Linked DNA regions of Homo sapiens. The protein of the gene in region 2 purifies or fractionates together with the protein of the main gene of each other region. This does not show direct contact. Each region holds a gene or a part of one and is shown on either strand. Other genes may lie near its edges.

What was found.
Region 1: the proteins of ARHGEF9 (region 2) and NSRP1 purify together in Homo sapiens (affinity purification with mass spectrometry, with the first as the bait; one large-scale study listed by BioGRID). This does not show direct contact.
Region 3: the proteins of ARHGEF9 (region 2) and TPX2 purify together in Homo sapiens (affinity purification with mass spectrometry, with the first as the bait; one large-scale study listed by BioGRID). This does not show direct contact.
Region 4: the proteins of ARHGEF9 (region 2) and CPVL purify together in Homo sapiens (affinity purification with mass spectrometry; one large-scale study listed by BioGRID and IntAct). This does not show direct contact.
Region 5: the proteins of ARHGEF9 (region 2) and JPT2 purify together in Homo sapiens (affinity purification with mass spectrometry, with the first as the bait; one large-scale study listed by BioGRID). This does not show direct contact.

What each region holds. Positions count from the first base shown.
Region 1 is NC_000017.11:30,119,816-30,123,333, reverse strand, and holds part of NSRP1 (nuclear speckle splicing regulatory protein 1), read right to left. Parts: intron 1-3,518. UniProt on the Homo sapiens protein: RNA-binding protein that mediates pre-mRNA alternative splicing regulation.
Region 2 is NC_000023.11:63,649,210-63,652,727, forward strand, and holds part of ARHGEF9 (rho guanine nucleotide exchange factor 9), read right to left. Parts: intron 1-3,518. UniProt on the Homo sapiens protein: Acts as a guanine nucleotide exchange factor (GEF) for CDC42. Promotes formation of GPHN clusters.
Region 3 is NC_000020.11:31,737,799-31,742,100, reverse strand, and holds the start of TPX2 (targeting protein for Xklp2), read right to left. Parts: upstream 2,812-4,302; 5' UTR 2,480-2,811; intron 1-2,479. UniProt on the Homo sapiens protein: Spindle assembly factor required for normal assembly of mitotic spindles. Required for normal assembly of microtubules during apoptosis. Required for chromatin and/or kinetochore dependent microtubule nucleation.
Region 4 is NC_000007.14:29,136,537-29,140,054, forward strand, and holds part of CPVL (probable serine carboxypeptidase CPVL isoform b precursor), read right to left. Parts: intron 1-3,518. UniProt on the Homo sapiens protein: May be involved in the digestion of phagocytosed particles in the lysosome, participation in an inflammatory protease cascade, and trimming of peptides for antigen presentation.
Region 5 is NC_000016.10:1,695,270-1,698,787, reverse strand, and holds part of JPT2 (jupiter microtubule associated homolog 2), read right to left. Parts: intron 977-3,518; coding exon 928-976; intron 1-927. UniProt on the Homo sapiens protein: Nicotinic acid adenine dinucleotide phosphate (NAADP) binding protein required for NAADP-evoked intracellular calcium release. Confers NAADP-sensitivity to the two pore channels (TPCs) complex.

The DNA.
Region 1 (3,518 bases), on a different chromosome or scaffold from region 2:
CCAGCCTGGCCAACATAGTGAAACCCCGTCTCTACTAAAAATACAAAAATTAGCTGGGCGTAGTGGCACATGCCTGTAATCCCAGCTGCACCTGTAGTCCTAGCTACTCGGGAGGCTGAAGCAGGGAAACTGGTTGAACCCAGGAGGTGGAGGTTGTAGTGAGCCAAGTTCGTGCCACTGCACTCCAGCCTGGGCTACAGAGCGAGACTCTGTCTCAAAAAATAAAATAAAATAAAAAGAGATAAATGTGGCTGGGAACAGTGGCTTGCACCTGTAGTCCCAGCACTTTGGGAAGCTGAGGCAGGAGGATTGCTTGAGGCCAGGTGTTCAAGACCAACCTGGCCAATATAGTGAGACCCCATCTCAATTTTAAATTTTTTTTAAAAAAAGGTAAATGACATGAATATACATTTCTCCAAAAACAAAAAAGTGTCCAACATTATTGGCCACCAGGGAAGTGCAAATCAAAGCCACAATGAGATACCACTGTACACCTTCTATATGGCTACAATAAAAAAGAAATGTTAGACAGGATGTGGAAGTGTCAAAACCCTCATACACTGCTGACAGGAATGCAAAATGGTGCAGCCATTTTGAAAAAGTCTGGCAGTTCCTCAAAAAATAAAACCAGGCCAGGTGTGGTGGCTCACACCTGTAATCCCAGCACTTTGGGAGGCCGAGGCAGGCAGATCACCTGAGGTCAGGAGTTCAAGAACAGGCTGGCCACCATGGTGAAAACCTGTCTCTACTAAAAGTACAAAATTAGCCAGGCATGGTGGCACACGCCTGTAATCCCAGCTACTCAGGAGGCTGAGGCGGGAGAATTGCTTGAAACAGGGAGGCAGAGATTGCAATAAGCCGAGATCACGCCACTGCACTCCAGCCTGGGTGAAGAGTAAAACTCCGTCTCAAAAAAAAAAAAAAAAAAAAAAAAAAAAAAAAAAAAAATATATATATATATATATATATATATATATATATGAAACCAGAGTTATCATATGAACCAGAAATTTCCATCCTAGGTACATATCCAATAGAATATCCAATGGAAATGAAAACATATCCACACAAAAAACCTATACACAAGTATTTATAGCAGCATTATTGCCAGAAATTGGGAAAAACCCAAATGCCTACCACTGATAGATAAAATATGGTACATTCATACAATGGAATATTATTCAGTAATAAAAAAAGAAATAAAGAGTACTGACACGTTACAATCTTGAGAACATCATGCTAAGTGAAAGAAGTCAGACACAAAAGAAAGCCTATTGCATGATTCTATTTATATGAAATGTGCAGAATAGGGAAACCCATAGAAACAGAAAGTAAATTAGTGGTTGCCAGGGTTTAGGGGTGGGGAGAATGGGGAGTGATGGTAATGGGTACACAGTTTCTTTCTGGGTGAGGAAAATGTTCTAAACAGTGGTGATGCCGGCACAACTCTTAAAAACCAGTGAATTGGCCGGGCGCGGCGGCTCACGCCTGTAATCCCAGCACTTTGGGAGGCCGGGCGAGGTGGATCACAAGGTCAGGGGTTCGAGACCAGCCTGATCAACATGGTGAAACTCCGTCTCTACTAAAAATACAAAAATTAGCTGGGTATGGTGGCAGGTGCCTGTAATCCCAGCTACTCAGGAGGCTGAGGCAGGAGAATTGCTTGAACCCGGGAGGTGGAGGTTGCAGTTGCAGTGAGCCGAGATCACGCCACCGCACTCCAGCCTGAGTGACAGAGACTCCGTCTCAAAAAAAAAAAAAAACACACACACACACGCACACACACAGTGAATTGTACACTTTAAAAGGGTAAAGTATACAGTGTGTGAATTATATATTTTTTTAATGAGGGAAAATGATGACCAAAAAAAAAAAAAAAAGATCTTGCATCAGGACTCCATCTCTTTCCCATATATTCAATGTGGCTGCCAGGTCCTACTTATTTCTGTGGTATCGCTCACATTTTTCCCCATTAATTCCCAATGACCTCAACCTAGGTTGAGATCTCTCACCTGAACTACTAAAAAAGCCTTCTAACAAGCATTTTTAAACTCATCTCTCATTTCTCCCTTTCTTTGTTTTACAATTCAAGAGTTATCTTCCCAAAAGTGTGATGATATCACCGAATTACTCAAAAACTACTTGAAAATATAAAGTTGAAATTTTATACGAAAAATTTAAGGTACTCCACAATCTGGCCCAATCCTGTTACAACCGTATCTGCAACATTTTTTCCTATATACCCTCTTCTCCAGCCACATTATTCCACAAAAATGCCTTGTACTTGTATGCCATTCTGTATTTCTTGCTGTTCTCTCCCAAATGAAATTATTTCACCTCTATTTTTGCCTATTTAAATCTAAACCAGCCTTGAATGTTATTTAAATGCTTATTCCTGCCTTGATTTTCCTGCAACAAAGTGAATCATTTCATTCTCTACATTTCATTCACATTCTGTAACGCTACTGTTAAAACAAGGCAAGACAGAAGAATAGTATAGGTTTGAAGGTCAGATAGGCCTGTGTTCAAATCCCAATCTTGACACTTATTTATCAGCCACATGGCCTTGAACAAATTACTTAACCTGAGCTTCAATTTTCTGACCTGTAAAATGGGAATAATAATACATCAGAGTGATCCTGAAGATCAAATAAAGTATAATGAGCACACAGGAATCCTCAGTATATTAGTTTCCTTTTCATATTTCAGTTTGCTTTATATTCATGTTCACATGTCTGTCTTCCCCACTAGACTAGACACTGGTTGAAAGCAACACTATATAAGGTCCCAAAAAAAACTGTTAAAGCGTACCACATAATAAAAAGTATATAGGCTATATAGATGCAAAACTGATCAACTCTTAACCTATTGTAGGTATTAAATATCTACTAATGCAACGACATAATTAAAAATTCAAAAGTTGTAATTAGTAACTTCCTCAATATTCCATTTGAAAATATTCTAGTTGGCTACGCAGAAATGGAGATTTAACTAGTAACCTTGATTCATTTCTTATGGTCAATTATTCTAATATTTTATGAAGAAATAAAAACAGAAAAATGGAAGAAAAACTTAAGTCACTGTTAAGGGGGAAAAAATCCATTTTAAGAAAAATGTGATTCTACAACTACATGGATAAATCTGGCATTATACTGAGTGGAGTAAGTCAGACATAAAAGAGTACATACTGTATGATTTTTTTTATATGAAATTCTGTAACAGGCAAAACTAATCTAGTGATAGAAATATGAGCATTTGTCTGGGGTAGCAAGTGGGGAGGTAGACTGACTGCAGGAGGGTATGGAAAGCCTTTTGGGAGAGAGGGAAATGTTCTAAATCTTGATTGGGGCATATACATTTGTCAAAAATCATCAAGCTGTACACTTAAAATCTGAGCATTTTATATGTAAATTATACCTCAATTTTTAAAAACTGTGAGCCATAAAGAGCCAATGTCTTCAAAAGTAGCAAAGAAATATCAAATATGTTAAATTATCCACCCATGCTATTATATAATA
Region 2 (3,518 bases):
GTAAAAGAACAGAAATTATAACAAACTGTCTCTCAGACCACAGTGAAATCAAACTAGAACTCAGGATTAAGAAACTCACTCAAAACCGCTCAACTACATGGAAACTGAACAACCTGCTCCTGAATGACTACTGGGTACATAACGAAATGAAGGCAGAAATAAAGATGTTCTTTGAAACCAATGAGAACAAAGACACAACATACCAGAATCTCTGGGACACATTCAAAGCAGTGTGTAGAGGGAAATTTATAGCACTAAATGCCCACAAGAGAAAGCAGGAAAGATCTTAAATTGACACCCTAACATCACAATTAAAAGAACTAGAGAAGCAAGAGCAAATACATTCAAAAGGTAGCAGAATGCAAGAAATAACTAAGATCAGAGCAGAACTGAAGGAAATAGAGACACAAAAAACCCTTCAAAAAATCAATGAATCCAGGAGCTGGTTTTTTGAAAAGAACAACAAAATTGATAGACCACTAGCAAGACTAATAAAGAAGAAAAGAGAGAAGAATCAAATAGACACAATAAAAAATGATAAAGGGGATATCACCACTGATCCCACAGAAATACAAACTACCATCAGAGAATACTATAAACACCTCTACGCAAATAAACTAGAAAATCTAGAAGAAATGGACAAATTCCTCGACACATACACCCTCCCATGTCTAAAATGATTTTCTGATTTTGTAAAAATCAAAATAAACAAAGTAAGTATTCAGTCAATGAAAGAGTGGAAAGGATCTAAAATATTCCTTAAATCCTGAAAGTAGGAAAAAGAAGGAAATAAAAGTGAAAATTAAGAAGAAACAGAAATAAACTGCAGAAGGGATAAACAAACCAAAAACACGTTCTTTGAAACGACCAAATGTAAATTAGTACAGCCATTATAGAAAAACAGTAGAAAAGTTCCTAAAAAAATTAAAAATAGAACTACTATATAATCCAGCAATGCCACTGCTGGGTATGTATCCAAAAGAAAGGATATCAATATACCGAGGAAATATCTATGCTCTCATGTTTATCACAGCATTATTCACAATAACCAAAATATGAAATCAACCTAAATGCCCATCAGTGGATTAATGTATAAAGGAAATGTGGCATATATACACGATGTTATATTATTCAGCCATAAAAAAATGAAATCCTGTCATCTGCAGAAACATGGATGGAACTGGAGGATATTATGTTAAGTGAAATAAGATTATTTTCCCTCATACATGGGAGCTGAAAGGTGGATTTCATAAAGATAGAGAGTAGAATGGTGATTATCAGTGGCTCAGAAAGAAAGGCTCAGGTCAATGGAGAGGGGCTGGTTAATAGGTACAAAAACACAGTTAGAAGGAATAAGATTTAGTTTGTGATAGGACAGTAGGGAAATTAGAGTTAATAATAATTTATTGTATATCTCAAAATAGCTAAAAAAAATATTTGGAATGTTCCCAACACAAAGAAAAGATGAGCATTTGAGGTGATGAATATCGCAATTACCCTGATTTGATCATTACACATTGTATACAGGTATCAAAATATCACATGTACCTTAAAAATATGTATAATGATTATATATACATAAAAAAGATCAATACTCCCTGATAAGCCTGATTAAAAGATTAAAGTGAGAAAATAAAAATATATGAAATATTATGAACCCAAAAGAAGAGAGATAACTACAATTATGGAAGATATGATAATTAGAAAATATTATGTGTAGATATATAGCATTAAATTAAAAATCCAGAGGAAATGAACAATTTCCCAGAAAAATAGAAATTATCAAAAGTAATGTACAAAGAGGCAGAAATGTACAGAATCTAAAGAAAACTCTACCATTTTCCTGAAGCATACAGAACAAGATTTTGATGAAAGGAGAGCAGAGCCTTGTCTTAAATGTGAAAACTTAATAACAATGCCAAGCCGTTACATATTAAAAAATTTAATATAATGCCAATCAGAATCCAAATGGGCTTTCTATGCCAGTTTTTACGGCAGTGTTTTTAAACCTAGAATAAATAAATTTGATATTCATATCAAAGAATAAACATCTAAGAACTGCTAAGAAGCAATGATAAGAGTGAATAAGAATTGATTGTACCAGGCATTAAATCTTTCTCAAAATCTACTGTAATTGAAACAGCATAGTCTTGATACAAGAAATGACAAACAGAAGAGTGGAACAGAATAGAAAGTTTAAAAACACATCTAAGTATATATGCAGAGTTACTATATATGAAAAATGGCATTTAAACTGTGTGGAAAATAAATGATTTATTTAATAAATGATGCAGATGCAACTGACTATCCACCTTGAAGAAAAAAATGAGGTCCCCTTTCTCACATCATATAAAAATGTAAATTCCGGATGGATTACTGTTCTAAAAATAAACCAAAAATATATTTTTAATCAGGAAATTTTATAGTTTGGATGGCAAGAGATCTTAAGCAAGATGAAACTAGGGGCCAAAAAAGGAATAATAGATACATTTTTCAAAGTAAAAATTTAAATATTTATAGAAGTAGGCAATATAAACAAACTCAAAAGACAAAAAACAGACTGGTGAAAACGTGAAATTCGTGACTGACAAAGTGTCACATCAACAATATAGAGTCCTTCCAAATTTATGTTAAAAGAATGAGTAAAGGGTATGAGGCAATTCACAAAAGAAATGAAAATAGCCATTAAGCATATGAAAAAAAAAAGGTTCCAACACTTTTTTTCAATTTACTAGTTGAGAAATGGCAAACTGAAACAAATAGATACTATCCAGTGCTGGTGAGGCTATGCGGAAGTGGGTACTCATAAAATTATGCTAGGAGTATAGATTCTACAAATCTTTCAGAATTTAATATGCAAGTATGTATTAAAACTGTTCACATCCTAACATTCAGTCATTCCACTTTAGGGTACAGATCCTACAGGAATAAAAGCATCAGTAAGTAACAATCAGATACGTACATGGATATTTATTGCAGCAATATCTGTAGTGGGAAATAAAGCTAAATATAAAATGAATGTCTAGCAAAAAACGAACAGTCAGCCCTCTGTAACCATGGGTTCCACATCTGGATTCAATCAACTGTGGATCAAAAATATGCAGAAAAAAGCGGCTGGTTGCTTCTTTACTGAACACATATGGATTTTTGCCTTGTTTTTATTCCCTAAACAATACAGTATAACAATTATTTACATAGCATTTACATTGTGTTAGGTATTATAAATAATCTAGAAATGATTGAAAGTATATGGAGGATGTACATAGGTTATATGTAAATACTATATCATTTTATATAAGGGATTTGAGCATCCATGGATTTTGATATGCACGGGAGTCCTGGAACCAATATCCCGTGCATACCAAGAGATGACTGTGGTTATTACATAATATTATGGAATGTTATACAGCTGTTTATAAGAAAAGTGTGATGAATTTATTGATGTGCCCATTCGACTAGACTGTAGTCCTCACTAATGTAGGTGTTGCCATGAAGGTATTTTACAGATATAATCAAAG
Region 3 (4,302 bases), on a different chromosome or scaffold from region 2:
CAATTTTATACTTTTCTCACTGTTCTTTATTCCCCTTTTACCAAGTTTCCCTACACAAACAAAAACGGAAGCCCTCCGCAGTTATCTATCCTTTTTTCACAGAGTACCTTGGGCTGCTGATCTCTACATCTCTGTCTCAAATACAGATCTATTCACAGAATCGCTTGGGTTATGAAATCTCTCTAAGGCCAGGCAAGGTGGCTCACACCTGTAATCCCAGCACTTTGGGAGGCCGAGGCAGGTGGATCACCTGAGATAAGGAGTTTGAGACTAGCCTGGCCAACGTGGTGAAACCCTGTATCTACTAAAAATACAAAAATTAGGCCAGGCACAGTGGCTCACACCTGTAATCCCAGCACTTTGGGAGGCCGAGGCAGGCAGATTACGAGGTCAGGAGATTGAGACCATCCTGGCTAACATGGTGAAACCCCATCTCTATTAAAAATACAAAAAAACTAGCCGGGTGTGGTGGCATGCGCCTGTAGTCCCAGCTACTTGGGAGGCTGAGGCAGGAGAATTGCTTGAACCCAGGAGGCGGAGGTTGCAGTGAGCCGAGAGCGCACCATTGCACTCCAGCCTAGGTAACAAAGTGAGATGCCATCTCAAAAAAAAAATACAAAAATTAGCCGGGTGTGGTGGCAGATCCCTATAATCCCAGCTACTCAAGAGACTGAGGTAGGAGAATTGCTTGAACAGGGGAGGCAGAAGTTGCAGTGAGCTGAAATCGCGCCACTGCACTCCAGCCTGGGCGACAGAGTGAGACTCCGTCTCAAAAAAAAAAAACAAAAACAAAAACAAAAAAAACAACTCTATAGTCAATTTTGCTTCCTAACTTTGCCCATAGCAAAGAAAATTAAGTATGTCAAAGGGCATTTAAATATCCCTCCTCTTTCTCCCAGGAACTCAAAGAGAATTAGGGAAGAGACACAGAAAAAGCTGAAGGAAAATTAACCAGGAGATGTAGATGAGCCCTGAACATCTCCTGGTAACTAAAGAAATGAAATGAAGGACTCTCTCACATAATCCTGGACAAACTTAATTGCAATAAATTAATTTTATCAAGGTTGGAATACACAGATTTATGCATAAGGTTGGCCAAATAAACCCTATTCAGATAATTTGAAAGTCTAAACAAATTTACCAACCTAGTTGAATACAATCCAGTTTTTCATACCCGCAATTTTGTAGTCAATTCAGATAGTGCCTTCCTGCCTACTCAATTCAACAGGTATTTAGTGGGTGATTCCTATGCACTAGGATTGTTTCAGTCCCTGTCTAACCAAACTCTGGTTATCAAGAATTAGACAAGGGTGGCTTTGTGAAGCACAGAAACACAAACTGGCTCTTGAACTCCCTCACCTCTAAATTGTCCAGACACCTAGAATACAAAACAGTAGAGCACCCAGATGGTGTCCTATCTTGCTCTGATTCTCACTTGCCAATTTCAAACCATGTTTTTGTCCCCAAACATACCAAAAAACGTTTGAGTACATCATATATCTGTACACCCATAATATCTCATGCCAATCTGAGCACAGTACCCTCAAAGGTCAACTAAATGGCTGAGTTAGCTGACAGCCACATAATTTTGATCCAAGAATGCCAGCTTAATACTGAACTGACTCACCCAAACCAACCAGGGGGACTCAAGTCTGACGTGGGGGTGATGTAATACACTAAGGCCACAATACAAGAATATCCTTACTACAGCAGCAAGTAGTCCTATTTTTGACAACATTTGATGAGTGAGAGAAATTCAAAGAGAGGCCACAGGATGTCAAGAAAAGGTAAGGGTGAAGCAGGAAGTAAACCAAGAGCTGGTCTTAAAGCAAAATCCAGGAGTCAAAAATCCTCTTCTATCCTAAGTAGGCCTGATTTGGGGGGAGTCCATGTTACTGAACTACTAGAAAATTATATGTGGAAAACCAGACGTTATATGTCAAGAAAATAGGGGGTAAACCAATTCTACATTATAACCTGGTTTGGTTTTCCTTCCCCCCTCCAATCTATAAATGTTGAGAAAGGAAATGAGAAAGGGAATAATATCTGGTGATTCCATACAAAAAGAGAGCTGGACAAATATGGATAACATATAATGAATTTTAAATCCCAAATAGAAGACAACTCCAAGTGGACTTAAACTCTCCCTCAATTATGTTCTCACACCATCTAATTATCTTCCTGTTTTAGACAACAGTTTTGAAATGTACTTATTTGTGACTACCTCTGTTTTCCTCCATCAAACGCCACACTTCCTGAGGGCATGGCTACTGTATCACCCATTTCTCGAAATTTATCTAGATTCTGGGCCTCAGTTTCCTCCTCCTTCCTCCTTCCTCAGTTTCTGTCAAGAGGGACCAAGAATAGCACCAACTACATTGGCTTGGCGAGGAAATTAAATGAGAACGGGCATGCAGGGTGCTTAGTTCAGTCAATGTTTATAACCTGTTAGCATGGTAATAACAATAATTATCGTTACCGTTATTAGCCGACAGCCTCCCGCAACTCTTTTTTTCCTCCGTTTCCCGGACGGACTTCACAGCAAAATCCTGTCGCCAAGAGAAGCGTGGCCCGAAGCCCCTGCTCGCACCCTGCCCCGCCTAGGCGGCGACCGAGCACCGCAACCGCCTCAGAAGCCAGGCCTAGCGGCGCGAACGGCGCTAGGGGCTGGAAGGTGAACTTCAGCCGTTCCAAACTCCGGGAGGAGGGAGACCCGCGCCCTAGCTGCTCCCTCTTTTCTTCCCACGGCTCACCTAGCCTCGCCTCAGATCTGACAACGAAGCGCGAGCCAACCCGCCGCGGGACTCATTCAGTATCGTTGAAATTTTGAACCCAGGCAGCCTAGTCGAATGCACCAATCAGAGCGCCGGGAAAGCAATTCCAGGCTCCCGATTGGCCCTACAGACCGCAGCAATACCGGAAGTCAGAAGGAGGTACCAGCGAACAACGCGGCCCGGAGTTCCTGGGAAGTGTAGTCTCCTGCGCCTGCGTGAGTCCACTGGAACAGCTCTTAGGAGTACGTTATTACAAAGACCGGAGTGCTCTGCTCCAAACTATTTGGGAAAGGTGGTACCAACTGAAGAGGTGGAGAGTCAACCTAGATCACAGAATGGCGCGCATCCTGGACCTCTCCAAGTTTTCAGGGAAGAAAACTCTATTTTTAAAAATTATTCTCGTTATGGTTGTGCATTATCCCTTGAAGGTTCAGGGAGTTCACTTCGTCTTAACATGGAGTCGCCTGCATGCAACATAGACTCGCCCGTAGCGTCCTTCCCAATAGTGCAGGAGTCTTTGAAACCTTTTACCCAGTCCCTGCCCTGATCTTATGAAACCCGCGGTTCGTTGGGAGCTTTATCCGGTTTTATTCCCAACTGCATCCCGGCTTTATGATCCCCATGTCGTAAAAAGAAAACAAAGTCTAGGAGAAGTTGAACAAACATGTCCAAAATCACATAATAAATGGAGAAGATGGGATTCGAATTAAGAAGGTCTGTTCTTTTTATACACCACCGATAATTAATTAGAGGCCGGGCTTCGTGGCGCTCACCTATAATCCCAGCTCCACAGGAGGCTAAAGCAGAAGGATCCCTTGAGACCAAGAGTTCCAGAACAGCGTAGACATCATAACGAGACCACCCCCACCATCTTAATTTTTTTTAATCAATTAGAAAATAGCAGCAACAAGAACAACAAAACAACCCCCTTCATAATACCAGCAAAAGCTAAAGATTCAAAAATTAAGCCTAGGCTGGGTGCGGTAGCTCACGCATGTAATCCCAGCACTTTGGGAGGCCGAGACAGGCAGATCACTTGAGGCGATGAGTTCGAGACCAGCCTGGCCAAAATGTTGAAACCCCCCCCCATCTCTACTAAAAATACAAAAATTAGCCGGGCGTGCTCGCGCGTGCCTGTAATCACAGCTACTTGGGAGGTTGAGGCAGGAGAATCACTTGAACCCAGGAGGCGGAGGTTGCAGTGAGCCAAGATTGCACCACTGCACTCCAGCCTGGGCAACAGAGCGAGACTCTGTCTCAAAACAAAAAAAAAAAGGTCAAGGCAATTCCAATGAAAGTCCCAGTGGGTTCTGTTCTGGAATTTGCCAAGTTAATTCTAAAGTTCCTATGGAAGAGTACAAGTACTGGCATCTTGAATTTTGAAAAAGATTGGGGGATTTATGTACAGATTTTGTACATATTAACATGAAATTATAGTAATTTTTAAAGTATGGTTCAGTTAATTCACACCCATGGGGGTGCAATCGGCAAAATCCAGACAGGAAAACCACAGGACAATTTAGTTCCT
Region 4 (3,518 bases), on a different chromosome or scaffold from region 2:
AAGGTGTAACCCTAAAACCAATAAATCAAGAAACAGATTAGGCAGATTACTTGGAAATTTGGAATTAAAGGCTAGAACAGACAGGTAAAAGTATGAGAGGAGGTCTCAGAGATAAGAGAAGGATGGGGAGGTGGGGAGAAGAAGACTAAAATTTTTTATCATGAGAATTATAACATTACTTTTATTATATTGACAAAAATCAAAAGTAGTTAAGAAGAACTCAAAAACTAAACTTATTATCTCCTTCCCTAAACTTGTCCTTACTTCCCTATTTTTCATCTTGGTTGGAAATACTCCCATCAACTCAAGTACTAAAGCCAGAAATCCAGGATGTATTCTTTATTTATCCATTTTTCTCTGGCCCTGCATTCCCACAGCCAATCAATCACCAACTGAATCTCCTAGATGTTCTTCAAATTCACCTTCACCTCTCTAAATCTACTCTCATGGCCTAATCCAGTTCTTTATTGTGACTTGCCTGGACTACTGCAAACCTCCAAACTAGTTTCCAACCTTGACTTTAACTCCTAATTAAATGAATCCCTCTATACTTCCCTCATGTGCTGCTGTCTCTCCTATTGAGGTGGCATCACTGTCTGGGGTAAATACCTGGGGTTCGCCATCTCATGCCAAGATTAAGGACATGGACACGCACAAGGAGTGAGTTTAGGAGCAGAGGTTTAGTAGGCAAAAGAAAGAGAAAGGAGAACACTTCTCTCTCTTGCAAGAGAGGGGCATCTGAATGGGAAATCTGGCCCTCCGTGGAGTGCACCAGATTTTATAGACAGGCTTGAGGAGGTGGTGTCTGATTTATATAGACAAAGATTGGCCCACAGATTGGCTGGACCAGGTGTGACATTTACATAGCATGCAGGGAAGCTGGCCACCTCACCCTAACCTTATTAAGCAAATGGGCTTTCCACTTGGCCAGCATTACTGTCTGTTCCCTACTGTACACATGGTTGGAAAGGAAAAGGGAAGACGGAGCTGCCATTTTGAACATGCCTAGCCCAGGTAGCCTTTTCCTATTGGCACAACTGCCGGCATTCACCTGTGCAAGCTTCCAGCTTACTTGTCTATGTGTGTAGCTCAATTTTATAGGCAGGCTGCTCTTTGTTAGAAAAGAAAATGATTTGGGGTCTGCTTTTCATTAAAAGGAAAACCTTACCGAGGACTCCTGTACTCTCACTATCTGCCCAAATAATTTCTTCTTAACGCCTATATCACTATTTTGGGAGGTCATAGAATTTATAGCATTTAAAAATTTGTTATGCAGCAATAGATAACCAATACAGAGGCAGGAGAAAAGCATAAGTAGGAAGTGGAGAAATAGGATGGAATCTAGAGAAGTCAGTAGAGAGCTGATCAGGGAGAGTTTTCTAGATATGCTAAGAATCTTTATCCTCTAGTGACTAGGAACTACTGAAGGGCTTGATAATTTGAAAAGAGTACTATGAACATCAATGTAAGGATGGACTTAAGCCAGAAAGACAGCAGGCAGGAAGGCCAGTTAATATGTTTCACAATAATCTAGAATAAAGATGACAGGAGTTTGAACTAGGGCTGGAAACTAGTAATAATAGCGTGGAGAGGGCAGACTTAAAAATAATTAGAAGGTTGACTGGGAGCAGTGGCTCACGCCTGTAATCCCAGCACTTTGGGAGGCCAAGGTGGGTAAGATCACCAGAGGTCAGGAGTTCCAGACCAGCCTGGCCAACATGACAAAACCCTGTCTCTACAAAAAAATACAAAAATTAGCCAGGCTTGGTGGTATGTGCCTGTAATCCCAGCTATTCAGGAGGCTGAGGTGGGAGGATCACTTGAACACCGGAGGCAGAGGTTGCAGTGATCCAAGACCACGCTGCTGCACTCCAGCCTGGGCAAAAGAGCGAGACTACGTCTCCAAATAATAATAATAAGAAGAAGAAGAAGAAAGTAAAACTGGAAGAAACTTGTGATTATATATTAGAGTTGAAATAGAACAAAGAATCTAGGATGATCCCAGATGTGACTTAGATGGCTGGGTGGGTGGACAGTGGTGCCATTAACCGAGAAAGAGAGAGACCCAGATCCCTGGGAGTGAAAATCAGCTCTGCTGCTAATCAGTCTAAGATGCTCCCAACAGAACATTAACAATGTTTCTATATACCCAAGGCCACTCTGCAGCTGCAGTATGATGGACAGTCCTTTTTTCTGAGCAACTGCTGTATTCTTACCAATGATAGCGCTTTGTCCCTCCCATCTCCTGAACAGAGACTGCTGAGAGTCTAAGTTCCTGAGCTGCCACGGGCACTTGGCAGCAGCTAATCCAGCGGGTACCTCTTCCCTGATCCCTCCTTCGACTCATTCAGCACAAGGCCAAATATTTCAGAGGCCTCTTCCCACTTCTCCCAACCTTTGGGTATGTGTCCTCCTTTGCTGGACATAATGCTAACACACCTAACTTTGTGTCATTACACATGTATTTCTCATATTCTCTGCTGAGTGGGTTTCAACTTCCATCCCACTTGAAAGGTGTGCTGAGAAAAGGTAGAAGGAGACTAAAAAATAGGGAGAAAAGAGACAATAAAGCCAGACCGTAGAGGATGGCTGCGGGCTCCCTATAGTACATTACATTCTAAGACGAGCAGGAAAGGCTCTGCCACAATTCCTGAATGTACAAGGTCAAAAGTTCCAGCCTTCACTTTGCCAACAGGTATATCCTTGGGCAAGCCAATTCACTTCTCCCCTTGGACTTCAGTTCCTTCATTTGTAAATTCTGGAGATTAGATGGACTATATAATTCCCAAAATCCCTTTCAGCTTGGAATGTCTAAGATTCTAAAAATGCAGCCAAGGAGATCAGGCTAAAACTGCTTCAGGCTTTGAGTCACAGGGATGATTCACGCAGGCTACCTTAATGAAAGAACTTCCACATCTGCTCTAGGTGCCCTGAACCTACACATTTCTGTCAGTGTTCGTAAGACAACCTAAGAAACCTAAGAAAGGCTATTCTTGGGGGGGCAGGGGGGCTACAACACTGATTAAATTACATGTTTTTTAAGCACAGATTTTTTAAAAATCCTATTAAAATTCTAAATCAGTGGCTTCCAGCAATTTTTCTCTGAAACAGACGTCTCGGATTTTGCAGACACCAATGTTCAGGCACACGTGTACACAAGAATGGTGGAAAGAGTCATGGTTTTACATGGAGTGTGCAGTCTGCCAGCTCAGAAATCTCCTGTGTCCCAACGGCACAGGCGGTTCATTCTCCTGCCAGCCAAGTTAATTCTACCAACATGCCAATAGTTAGAAGGGGAGAAAACAAAACAAAACAAATTATTTCCACTTGACTTGCTGATTGCTAATAATATTCTTCATCAAGTAACCCAGGCAGGAACACTTTTCATCTTCAGAATTAGCTATGGCTGCCATTTCCCCTTTTGTCAAATACAGGGAGATATTTCCCACGGTCTGCACATGACTCAGAATGGCTTCATCTTTATTTCACGTTCTACATTTCTTGTTGCTTGACTTAGG
Region 5 (3,518 bases), on a different chromosome or scaffold from region 2:
ACATCCCATTAGAGGCAACCCATGACCCTGACAGGCAGGCTGTGGAAATAAAAAGTGTGTCATAGAGCAACCTGCAAGAAATTCATGCTGTAACTGGGAAAGAGAAGACAATATAGACAGGCTTTTCATCTGGTACCAAAACAACTCACTGTAATTAGCAGATGCAGTTTTGAAATGGGCATAAAGTTGGGGCTTGCTACTGTAAATACTCCTTGATTTCTTCCTAAGTGAATTGTTTCTTTATATTGCTTGTTAGACACCACTCCCATTTCTTCCATCTCAAGTATAGAAAGCAAGCCCCTGAGAGTGACCATGAGGCGGCGAGGGAATGCATCCTAGGTGAGGGCTTAGCAAGGCAAAGGCAGGCTCTGTTGCTGTTACCCTGGGCTTTTCAAAGGTGAATGAAATCCCACAAATCTTGGTCATTAGTTAAGGGAAATGGAGACCCAAAGGCAGAAACCGATGCCCATGGTCAGGCTAAAGAGCCGTGGGGAGAGTCGAAGTCTGCCGCTCAACCTGAGCAGTGGCTCACTCCCCCGGGGTGACTCACCATGGAGACACCCGCCTCCCCATCCTCCATCCCTCTCTTGTGCCCCTCTCTTCTCGATTAGTTCTGCCAGCTCTATGCTTGGTCATGAGTTCACTGAAGGTTTGGGATCCCTGCCCATCACTACACAGATGAGCTTCTAGGAGACGACCCCATGGCCCTGGGCCTAGGCTGATGAGCAAGACAACCAAGTCCCAGGGTTTCACCCTAGCCTTCTTCAAATGCTGAATCCTCTTGCAGTGGATACACCTGAGCTCGTTTTAATCAGGTGGCCCAGAAGGTGCAAAGAAAGACTCCTTTTCATTCCCAGAGGAGAGACTAGCAACTCTTCCAGAAATAATGAGGCCACTCAGGAGAAGGGAAAGAAAACAAAAGCTCACCTTTAAGATCCGATTTTGGTTCTTCTCCTTCACATAAGAAAACATGATCCTGCAACAAGGCAAACCACCAAATCAGGACTCACTCAGAAAATTTTACCCTCATTCAAATGGACAATGAAAATCAGGACCATATAACCTTTTAATTTACAAAAATGCTTGTATATCTGACCTCAGGACCCCCCCAATCCTCTACAGACTATTCTGAAACAAACCTGATATTTCATTTATCCATACATATTTCAAGATGTAGCTCTTAAAACATCCTTTAAAAAATAACAGTAGCACCCTCAAAACTGCGAATATTAATGATTCCTTAAATATCAAAGTCAATTTTTTTTTTTTTTTTGGAGACAAGAGTCTTGTTCAGTCATTCAGGCTAGAGTGCGGTGGCATGATCTTGGCTCACTGCAGCCTCTGCCTCCTGGGCTGAAGCGATCCTCACATCTCAGCCTCCCGAGTAGTGGGGACTACAGGCGTGAGCCACCACACCTGGCTAATTTTTCTATTTTTTGTAGAGACAGGGTTTTGCCACGTTGCCCAGCTCATCTCAAACTCCTGGACTCAAGTGATCTGCGTGCCTCAGCCTCCCAAAGTGCTGGGATTATAGGCGTGAGCCACTGTGCCCAGCCTCAAAGTCAAATTTTTAAATACTGGCATAATATTTCATCCATGCTGTAATATTTCATCCATAATAATTTCATCCATGCTGTAGCGTGTGTCAATGCTCCATTCCTTTCTATGGCTGAGTAATATTCCATTGTATGGACAGACCACATGTTGTTTACCCATTCATCTGTTGATGGACAAATGAGTCATTCCCGCCCTTGGGCTACTGTGAATAATCCTGGTGCAAGGATCTAGTGTTTGACTCCTTGTTTTCAAATCTTGTGAGTACGTACTTAAGAGTGGAATTATTCGGTCATATGGTAATCCTGTTTAACTCTGAGGAACTGGCAGTATCCACAGCCACTGCACCATCTTCCAATCCCACTAGCAATGCACGAGGGCTCCAGTTTCTCTGCATCCTCACCAACTCGTATTTTCCATTTTTACATCACACCATCCGAACAGGCATGCACTGGCATCTCACGGGTTTCTGATGTGCATGTCCCCAGTTATTAATAACACTGACCATCTTTTCGGGTGGTTTTTGGCTGCTTGTATCTCTTCTTTGGAGAAATGTATATTCAAGTCCACTACCATTTTTGAATTGGGTTTGTTATTTCGTTGTTGAGTTGTAGGCATTCTTTATGTATTCTGGATAGTAACTCCTTATCAGAAATGATTTGCAAATATTTCCTCCCATTCTGCGAGTTATCTTTTCACTTTTTTTTTTTTTTGACACGGAGTCTCACTCTGTTGCCCAGGCTGGAGTGCAGTGGCGCAATCTCGGCTCACTGCGCCCTTTGCCTTCTGGGTTCAAGCAATTCTCTTGCCTCAGCCTCCAGAGTAGCTGGGAGTACAGGCGCCCAGCTACTTTTTTTGTATTTTTAGTAGAGACGGGGTTTCACCATGTTAGCCAGGATGGTCTTGATCTGACCTCGTGATCCGCCTGCCTCAGCCTCCCAAATTGCTGGGATTACAGGTGTGAGCCACTGTGCCCAGGCTTTTTTGTTTGTTTTTTGTTTTTTTGAGACAGAGTCTCATTCTGTCACTCAGGTTGGAGTGCAATGGCGCAGTCTCAACTCATTGCAACCTCAGCCTCCCAGGTTCAGTTGATTCTTCTGCCTCAGTCTTCCGAGTACCTGGGATTACAGGCATCCACCATCATGCCCGGCTAGTTTTCGTATTTTTAGTAGACATGGGGTTTCACCATGTTGGCTAGGCTGGTCTCGAACTCTTGACCTCAGGTGATCTGCCCACCTCGGCCTCCCAAAGTGATGGGATTACAGGTGTTAGCCACTGTGCCTGGCCTGTTTTCATTCTTTATAGTGTCCTTTGATGCACAGAAGTTTATAACTTTAATGAAGACCTATTTATTTACTTATTTTTTCAGACAGTCTTGCTTGTTGCCCATGCTGGAGTGCAGTTGCATGATCTTAGCTCACTGCAACCTCTGCCTCCTGGGCTCAAGTGATCCTCCCAACTCAGCCTCCTGAACAGCTGGGACCACAGGTGTGCACCACCATGCCCGGGTAATTTTTTGTATTTTTGTGGAGAAGGGGTTTTGTCATGCTGCCCAGGCTGGTCTCAAAATCCTAGGCTCAAGCAATCTGCCTGCTTCAGCCTCCCAAAGTGCTGGGGTTATAGGCATGAGCCACTATGCCTAGGCTTTTTATAATTTTTTTGAGACAGGATCTCATTCTGTCACCCAGGCTGGAGTGCAAATGGCAAAATCACTGCTCTCTGCAGCCTTGAACAACTGGGCTCAAGCAATCTTCCCACCTCAGCCTCCCAGGTAACTAGGACCACAGGTGCACGCAACCATACGCAACTGATTTTTTTTTTTTTTTTTGGGACGGAGTTTCGCTCTTGTTGCCCAGGCTGGAGTGCAATAGCACGATCTCAGCTCACTGCAACCTCCACCTCCTGGGTTCAAGCGATTCTCCTGCCTCAGCCTCCCGAGTAGCTGAGATTACAAGCATGTGCCA